Regions from separate parts of the Homo sapiens genome. Here regions 2 and 3 are each linked to region 1. The links come from fine-mapping of genetic effects on gene expression. A gene starts in region 1. Each other region holds a variant in brackets. All regions are shown on one strand. Distances are from middle to middle.

Region 1 (2,500 bases):
AGGCTTTTTTTTTTTTTTTGGCCCAGGCCCTGTGCCTGGGACCAAAGCCTGAGCCCTTTCCTGCAGTCGGGTCGCTGACCTAAGCCTGGGGCAAAGCTAGGTCTTGGCCAGTCAGCAGCCACCACGTGAAGCAGCCCCTGCCCCCATCACCCCCGGCAGCCTTGTGCCCTCCTCCTCGGGGTCCTCAGCTCACCCCACCTCAGTCGGGCCTGCTCCAGCGGTTAAGTACCCCTAGTCTGAACCTTAATCGTGAGGCGGGGCAGCCCCCTCCCCACACCCTGTAGACACTCCCCCGTCCTCCGCCCCCTGGACTTGTTTGGGCGGGAAGAGCCTGCCTCATCTTTTCTTCCTACCCTCCTACCCAGTGGCCAGGGACCCCAGGCTTCCTCTGAGACATCCACCAGCGGTGATGGGTTGGGACCAATCTCCCCCACTCCTCTCCACCCTAGCAGTAAGGTCCCCGCTCTCGATACTGCCCCAGCACCTGCACTGGCCCTCTCTGATTTCCCAACTCCAGCCCATTCCAAGTGCTGAAGGCGGGTCGCTAGGTGCTGGGACCTGGGCGCGGGGCAAGACCTTGGGCTGTGTGGGGTGCAGGCTGGTTTACTGGGTTCACGATTGAGGGAGTGGTCTGGGGGTTAGGTGTAGGGCCAGGCTGCGTTGTGCTCTAAGGGGCAGGCGGCAGGCGGTTTGGGGGGGCTGTGGTCAGACAGGGTGGGGTGGCGGTGGGTTTGGGGAAGCCGCAGCAGCCCGCCTTGGGGTCCCGCGAGTGCCGAGGGAGCTGCCGGGGCATGGTGGCGCGGGGCCCGTGGTCCTGCCCGGCACGACCCCCGCCCCGCAGCGCCCCGCAGCGCCCCGCCCCCGCGGCCCCGCTCGCGACGCGTCTCCCGCGGCGCCCCGCCCCCGCCCGCAGTGCCCGGATGCGGGTGACGCGCGGCCGCCATCTTTCCGTCCCGGGCAGCCAGCGCCAGTCGGAGCCAGCGCGAGCCGCCGCCGCCATCACTGCCGCTGCCAAGTCCTCCACCCGCTGCCCCCGCCATGTGAGTCGGCCGCCCGCCACCCTCACCGCGCTTCCCTGCGCCGGCCGCCGCCCTTGGCAACCGGCCGTCGGGAGTGCCCGGGGTCTCTCCTGCGTTCCCCGCGCCCCGGGGCCAGGCCCAAGCCGGTGACTGCGCGCGGGCGGCCGAGGAGCCCCGCGTCCCGGGCTGGCCGGCTCGGGCGATGGCCGCGGGAAGGAGCGGACCCAGTGTCCTCCTGCCCCTCCCCGCCCCTGTCACCGCGGCCGCCTGTCTTTTCGGGTCGACCCGGATCGCATCTGTGAGGTCGCCCTCAGTTGACAGGCGGGGAAACTGAGGCCGGGGGGGCCTCGCTCAAGGTCACGCAGCTCATCGGCGGCAGGGCTGGACCGAGACCAGGGCTTACATCGGGTGGCCTTCCTCCCGAAAAGGAGGACTGGAGGGACGAGGATGGACAGGTGGATGGGCGGAGCCCTGGCTGCGGGGCCGGGAGGCTGCAGGCCCTGGGTCTTAATCCGTCCCTGCTCCTCAGGTCTGCTACCGCTGCCACGGCCCCCCCTGCTGCCCCGGCTGGGGAGGGTGGTCCCCCTGCACCCCCTCCAAACCTCACCAGTAACAGGAGACTGCAGCAGACCCAGGCCCAGGTGGATGAGGTGAGTGTGGGGGGAGTCAAAAGCAGTAGGAGGGACCCTGGGGGTTGGCGTATAGGTGTAGGGGCCCATGTTGGTTTGGGAGTGATGACAGTTCACGCCTGTGGGTTTGCGGACAAAGATACCATGCCCCATCCCTGTCTCCCTGTCAGCACGCACTTGGAAGGGCGCTGGGGGTGTTAATCAGCTTTGCTAGCCTGGGGTGTGCCAGCCTGGGCAGGTGTGCTCTGGTGATGGACAGAGCGCCTGAGGTTCCATAGAGGGAGGGTGTTGCTATGACATCTGAGATGTCACCAGCATGCCCCTGATGTGTGCTCCTTGCATGTCCCCAGGTGTGCTAGGCATGTTCTGTGTGTCCTTGGCATGTTAACCTGGCAGTATCAGGGTGCATGTTCCATGTGTGGCACGGTGGGCACATGTTTGAGGATTGCCCTCACTGAGGTGGGCCTTGGCACACCCCCCTGCCTCGTGGGCCCTTCTCCCAGGTGGTGGACATCATGAGGGTGAACGTGGACAAGGTCCTGGAGCGAGACCAGAAGCTGTCGGAGCTGGACGACCGTGCAGATGCACTCCAGGCGGGGGCCTCCCAGTTTGAAACAAGCGCAGCCAAGCTCAAGCGCAAATACTGGTGGAAAAACCTCAAGGTAAGGGTGGGGACAGGAAGGAGGACAGGTGGGTGAATGGGGTATCATAGTTTGTCTTACTGATCCTCGCCTCTCACCCCCAGATGATGATCATCTTGGGAGTGATTTGCGCCATCATCCTCATCATCATCATAGGTGAGTAGGGTGAGAATGGCCGGGGCCCTTTCCCTGGAGAGGTTTCCCCAGTGGA
Region 2 (2,837 bases), 44 kb after region 1:
CTTCATAACATCTCTATTTTAACATGTTTTCAAATGTTAGCTCAACTTCCAACATATTTAAATAATTTATTGTACGTTCTCTTAACACTGTGTTATAGGACTCAATTATCCGGTAGGAAAAGCACAAATAATTGGTAGTGTCCTAGTTTACTTTTTTTTTTTGTCGTATTATCTTGGGTCATAGGAGTATCCCCTCTGTGAAAATCAATTAACAATATTCAACATGCTGATATTAAAAGAAAAGCTTCAAGGTTCCACCGAGATTTGAACTCGGATCGCTGGATTCAGAGTCCAGAGTGCTAACCATTACACCATGGAACCTCCCTCGTGGTGTCTTTCAAGATTGTGTACATTACTGGACATTCTATTTTGCGTGTCTTCCACACCCGTCACTTAAAACGAAAACAAAACAAAGTCTGCTGTTGGATATGGTAGACACCGTTATCGAGCACTTGAAATATATGAATTCAGATGTATTGCCAGCTTCTAAATACACATCTTCTTTTGAAGGAAGGCTTTGTACAAACAAAAAGACTTAAAATTTCATTAATATTTTTAGAATGTTGATTATATGTTAAAATAAGATTTTGGTATATTAGGGTAAGTAAAATAGATCCGTGAAATTAATTTCGCTTGCTTTTTATTCTTTGTAATGTGGCTACCAGAAAATGTAAATTCGATAATACGGCTCGCGTTTGTACTGTTTTAAAGTATGTTTATTACCCTCCACCGTCGTTTGCTGTATTTTGTGGAAATCAAGTTTCTGTATCACCTAGCTTTAAAAACTAGTAACTATTTTTGTTACCATTTTATGCGAAGTGCGGTACCCAAAAGCAAAGACATGCCGCCCGAACAGGGACTTGAACCCTGGACCCTCAGATTAAAAGTCTGATGCTCTACCGACTGAGCTATCCGGGCTCTTCACGAGAGCTTTACTTTTTGCTTATAAGAGGGTTCTCTATAGGAAAAGCCAGGCTTGTAGAACCGACAGAGGATTTTATCTGTGCAGCATAGAATATTTTGGCACAGATTTGGAAGCAGCGGGTGAAGCTCGCCTGCTGCTGATTGAGCTTTTTCTGCCTCCCGTTCTTAGAGCCCCCGCCGAGGCTGCGACGCAGGGACTGTACCATAGTAGAGGCTGGAACAGTGCGGCGCCGGAACCGGCCGCGCGGGGCCGCTGCGGGCTATGGGCTTCTCTGAGAGGTTCCTCCCCAGTCCCTAGTGGCCCAGATCCCGGACACCTGGGCTCCCGCCCAGGATCCTGCAGGCCCAGGGCGGTCCTGGAGCGGAAAGAATGCCACGCGGGGCATTCAGACCCTGTTTGCCGGCGCTGTATTTCGCTTTCCTGACCTGCCCTACTCCAGAGCAGAGAATGAGGTCGGGCGTGCCAAAGGCTGGGGACAAAGAGGGCCATGCGTGGGGGGATCGGTGTATGGGGTGACAGGGAGCTGTTCCTGACCATTTGACATGTGCTGGAATGCGTGTGCGACTCACCTGCGTGTGGCTGCAGTCACGTGTGATTTATGACCAAGTGCAACTCTCCACTGTTTAGTGATTCACACGGATGATTCACACGTAGGAATGCAGGTGCCCTGTGCTCATCTCTGCCTGGGAATGGGGAGGAACAGATCTTGGGGGACATTGGGGAGTGGGCGGACAAGCACTCCAGGGCATCAGTCCGGGCCGCTGACCAGGCGGAG[G/A]GCAGTGTCCCAATTATACAGGCGTTACCTCCTTTTCTCCATCTCAGCATCTGATCCCTCCCTCCGCAGTGGAACCCAGGCTCCTGATATCCATCTGGGTGAGCCAGCCAGAGGGACCGGCTGTGTCAGAGGCAAGCAAACAAGTATTAGAGTGCAAGACTGTGGGCGGAGAGAGGAAGCCCGAGCCGCCAGCAGGGAGCTTCGGAGAGAGAAAGCCCAGGAACATCCCAGAGAGAGCTGGGCCCATCCTCAGCCCTACCCAGCCCCGCAGCCCCTAGCCCTCCGCCCAGAAACCCAGCCCTGTCCGGCGTGCCGCTCTTCTCCTCCAGGCCGGCTGCTGCTGCGGCCAGCGTTGCCGGGGCATCCCTTCCTCCTTCCCATCATGGCAGTGTACCGCCTGTGTGTGACCACTGGTCCCTACCTGAGGGCCGGCACACTGGACAACATCTCTGTCACACTGGTGGGCACGTGTGGTGAAAGCCCCAAGCAGCGGCTAGATCGAATGGGCAGGGACTTCGCCCCTGGATCGGTGAGTACAAAGGAGACAGGGAAGCGCGACCTCAGAGGGGCAGGGGCCGCAGGCGGGAGGAGTATTCCTCCTGGACTCTTGAGATCCTGCTGAACTCAGGATACCGGCCCTGACCTCCTCACCTTCCCTATTGAGGTCCCTGTCTTTCCTGGAGATGATGAACTCCATCCAGGCAGGACTGTGGAGAGGAAGGAGCGTTGGACAGGGAGTAGAGGGACTTCCCCTGGCTCCTAAACTCCTCCCATAATTGACCGTGGGCTTTGGGCAAGTCGCTTCCCCTCTCTGAGCCTGGGTTTCCTCTTATCGAGGGGATCTGCCTGCCTCTGCCAGCCCCAGGTGGCCTCCACAAGAGTTCCCAGCCGGCCTAGGAAGCTAGTGAAATGCAGTGCCCACTGTGCTCGGGCACCTTTTTCTTTTCTTTTTGAGATGGAGTTTTGCTCTTGTTGCCCAGGCTGGAGGGCAGTGGTGTGATCTCAGGTCACTGCAACCTCCACCTCCCGGGTTTAAGCGATTCTCCTGCCTCAGCCTCCCAAGTAGCTGGGATTACAGGCGCCTGCCACGACGCCCGACTAATTTTTTGTATTTTTAGTAGAGAAGCGGTTTCATCG
Region 3 (2,500 bases), 85 kb before region 1:
TTCTAGGTTCTTGGTGGGGAGAGGTTTATCCCCAGGTGGTTTCTCCCACAAATCTGTCTTGAACTGACGTTTGTGAAAATACATTCAGTTCCCCGTCCCCGCGGGGACAGTTAAGTAATGACATCAGTTAGTTAAGGCCATAAAGCAAGCATGTGAAAGTTGTGCTTTGGTGGCATTACGAGGAAGCCCTTCTCTGCTTGGCAAGATCAGGGAGACTGAAAGATGCTTAGAAGTCATCCACCAGGCGGGCTGTGTTTGAGTTCCTGAGCTCTGCTACCCCATCCATCTGAAGGCCTGCGGGATGCCGGACAGGATGTCACTTAGGAGGGAGACGGAGGCTGGGCGCGGTGGCTCCCGCCTGTAATCCGAGCACTTTGGGAGCCCGAGGCGGGCAGATCGCTTGAGCCCAGGAGTTCGAGACCAGTCTGGGCAACATGGCGAAACCATGTCGCTACAGAAAAATACAAAAATTAGCCGGGTGTGGCGGTGCAAGCCTGCGATCCCAGCTACTTGGTGGGCTGAGGTGGGAGGATCGCTTGAGCCCGGGAGGTCGAGGCTGCAGTGAACCGAGATGGCGCCGCTGCACTCCAGCCTGGGCGATAGAGCGAGACCTCGTCTCAAAAAAATCAGAGAGGGCCAGGGGCTGTGTTTCACGCCTGTAATCCCAGCACTTTGGGAGGCTGAGGCGGGTGGATCACCTGAGGTCAGGAGTTTGAGACCAGCCTGGCCACATGGTGAAACCCCGTCTCTACTAAAAATACAAAAAAAAAAAAAAAAAAAAAAATTAGCCGGGCGTGGTGGTGGCAGGTGCCTGTAATCCTAGCTACTCAGGAGGCTGAGGCCGGAAAATCCCTTGAACCTGGGAGGCGGGGGTTGCAGTGAGCCGAGATCGCGCCACTGCACTCCAGCCTGGGCGACAGAACCAGGCTTCGTCTTAAAAAAAAAAAAATCAGAGAAAAGAGACAGGGGTGTCGGGAGTTGGGATGGTGCACCGAGGCGCCTCGCGGAGTCTCTAGGAAGCGAGGGGGTGAGCAGCGAGAAGGAGCTGGAGGTGGCGAGGAAACCCGCTCACCGGTGACGTCACCGAGCGCCCCCCCACCCCCATCCCCACCCCCAAGCGAGCACCTGCCCCTCCCGGGGGCGGAGCTCCGGCGCATCATGGCGGCTGGCCGGGCCCAGGTCCCTTCCTCCGTGAGTGCTGCTATTACGTCTCTTGTTCCTTTTTTCTTGTTTGTCACAGATACTCTTTCTCTTCCTATTTCCTCTGCCTTGTCTCTCTGGGCTCGCTGGCCGCGTCCGGCCCATGGGTGAGGGGGTTGTGAGTCGGTCCGCTCCTACCTCTTACTGGT[T/G]CTGCGAATGTTTATTCCCTCATTCACGCGGCGCCCGCTGTGAGCCTTAAACTGGTCTCCGTTCACTCTCTAGGGTTTAATCCTGGTGGGAAACCAGGAGCAGGTTAATGGGGGAACTATGGGGCTGTGGGTTCCTGGAGAAGACCCTTGACGGAGCTGTAGGGGAAAAGGGCAACCATAATAAGTAAAAGCGTCTGAGACCCGAAGTGCGTGTAGAAGGCAAAAAGCGCCGAAAGGGGCTGGGTGTGGTGGCTCACGCTTGTAATCCAGCACTGTGGGAGGCGGAGGCGGGCGGATTACTTGAGGTCAGGAGTTCGAGACCAGCCTGACCAACATGGTGAAACCTCATCTCTACTAAAAATACAAAAATTAGCCGGGCGTGGTGGCGCGCACCTGTAATTCCAGCTACTCAGAAGGTTGAGGCAGGAGAATCGCTTGAACCGGGTAGACGGAGGCTGCAGTGAGCTGAGATTGTGCCACAGCACTCCAGCCTGGGCAACAGAGCGAGACTCTGTCAAAAAAAAAAAAAAAAAAAAAAAAGCGCCGGAAGGGGTTTCAGGACGGAAGCAAACACATATTCAAAGGCAGGAGGATAGAGCAGGTGTCTGAAAAACTCAAAAGTTCAGTTGGGTGGTGGTGGAGGGGTCAGAGCTGACAGTTTTGTACCTCTTGCTAAGCAGCGACTTTAACATGAGGGTAATTGGGTGTGGTGGCACACGCCGGTAATCCCAGCTGCTCAGGAAGCTGAGCAGGGAACCACGGAAGTGGAGGTTGCAGTGAGCCGAGATCGCGCCACTGCACTCTAGCCTGGACGACAGAGCCAGACTCCATCTCAAATAAATAAATAAATAAATAAATAAATAAATAAATAAATAAATAAGATGTTAAGAAAATACAATCTAAAGGATTGGTTTGTGTGCGTGTGTGTGTGTGTGTGTTTTGAGACGGAGTCTAGCTTTGTCACCAGGCTGGAGTGCAGTGACGCGATCTCGGCTCACTGCAACCTCTGCCTCCCAGGTTCAAGCGATTCTTCTGCCTCAGCCTCCCGAGTAGCTGGAATTACAGGCATACAGGCACGCGCCGCCATGCCCAGCTCATTTTTGTATTTTTTTTCTTTTTTTTAAGTACAGACGGTGTTTCACCATGTTAGC

Evidence for each region.
Region 2: its variant is fine-mapped to the expression of VAMP2 in whole blood (INTERVAL, PIP above 0.99).
Region 3: its variant is fine-mapped to the expression of VAMP2 in whole blood (TOPMed, PIP above 0.99).

Annotation. Positions count from the first base shown.
Region 1 is chr17:8,161,418-8,163,917 of GRCh38, reverse strand. VAMP2 (vesicle associated membrane protein 2) reads left to right here and starts at 970. Exons shown (of 5, transcript NM_014232.3): 1 at 970-1,040; 2 at 1,549-1,669; 3 at 2,152-2,310; 4 at 2,394-2,445. The coding sequence starts at 1,039. RefSeq lists silencers at 603-662, 793-892, 1,053-1,242, 1,533-1,642 and an enhancer at 1,753-1,802.
Region 2 is chr17:8,117,236-8,120,072 of GRCh38, reverse strand. ALOXE3 (arachidonate epidermal lipoxygenase 3) reads left to right here and starts at 1,559. Exons shown (of 16, transcript NM_021628.3): 1 at 1,559-1,587; 2 at 1,770-2,229. The coding sequence starts at 2,083. TRK-TTT3-5 (tRNA-Lys (anticodon TTT) 3-5) reads right to left here and starts at 918; the gene lies at 846-918. It overlaps TRQ-CTG1-5 (tRNA-Gln (anticodon CTG) 1-5), which reads right to left and starts at 321; the gene lies at 250-321. RefSeq lists silencers at 203-292, 423-472 and enhancers at 993-1,092, 1,243-1,312, 1,393-1,472, 1,194-2,393. The variant G/A (reference allele first, on the strand shown) is at 1,701.
Region 3 is chr17:8,246,695-8,249,194 of GRCh38, reverse strand. CTC1 (CST telomere replication complex component 1) reads left to right here and starts at 1,139. Exons shown (of 23, transcript NM_025099.6): 1 at 1,139-1,191. The coding sequence starts at 1,159. It also overlaps a transcript of PFAS not described here. RefSeq lists enhancers at 1-478, 603-722, 1,203-1,342 and a silencer at 1,063-1,112. The variant T/G (reference allele first, on the strand shown) is at 1,350.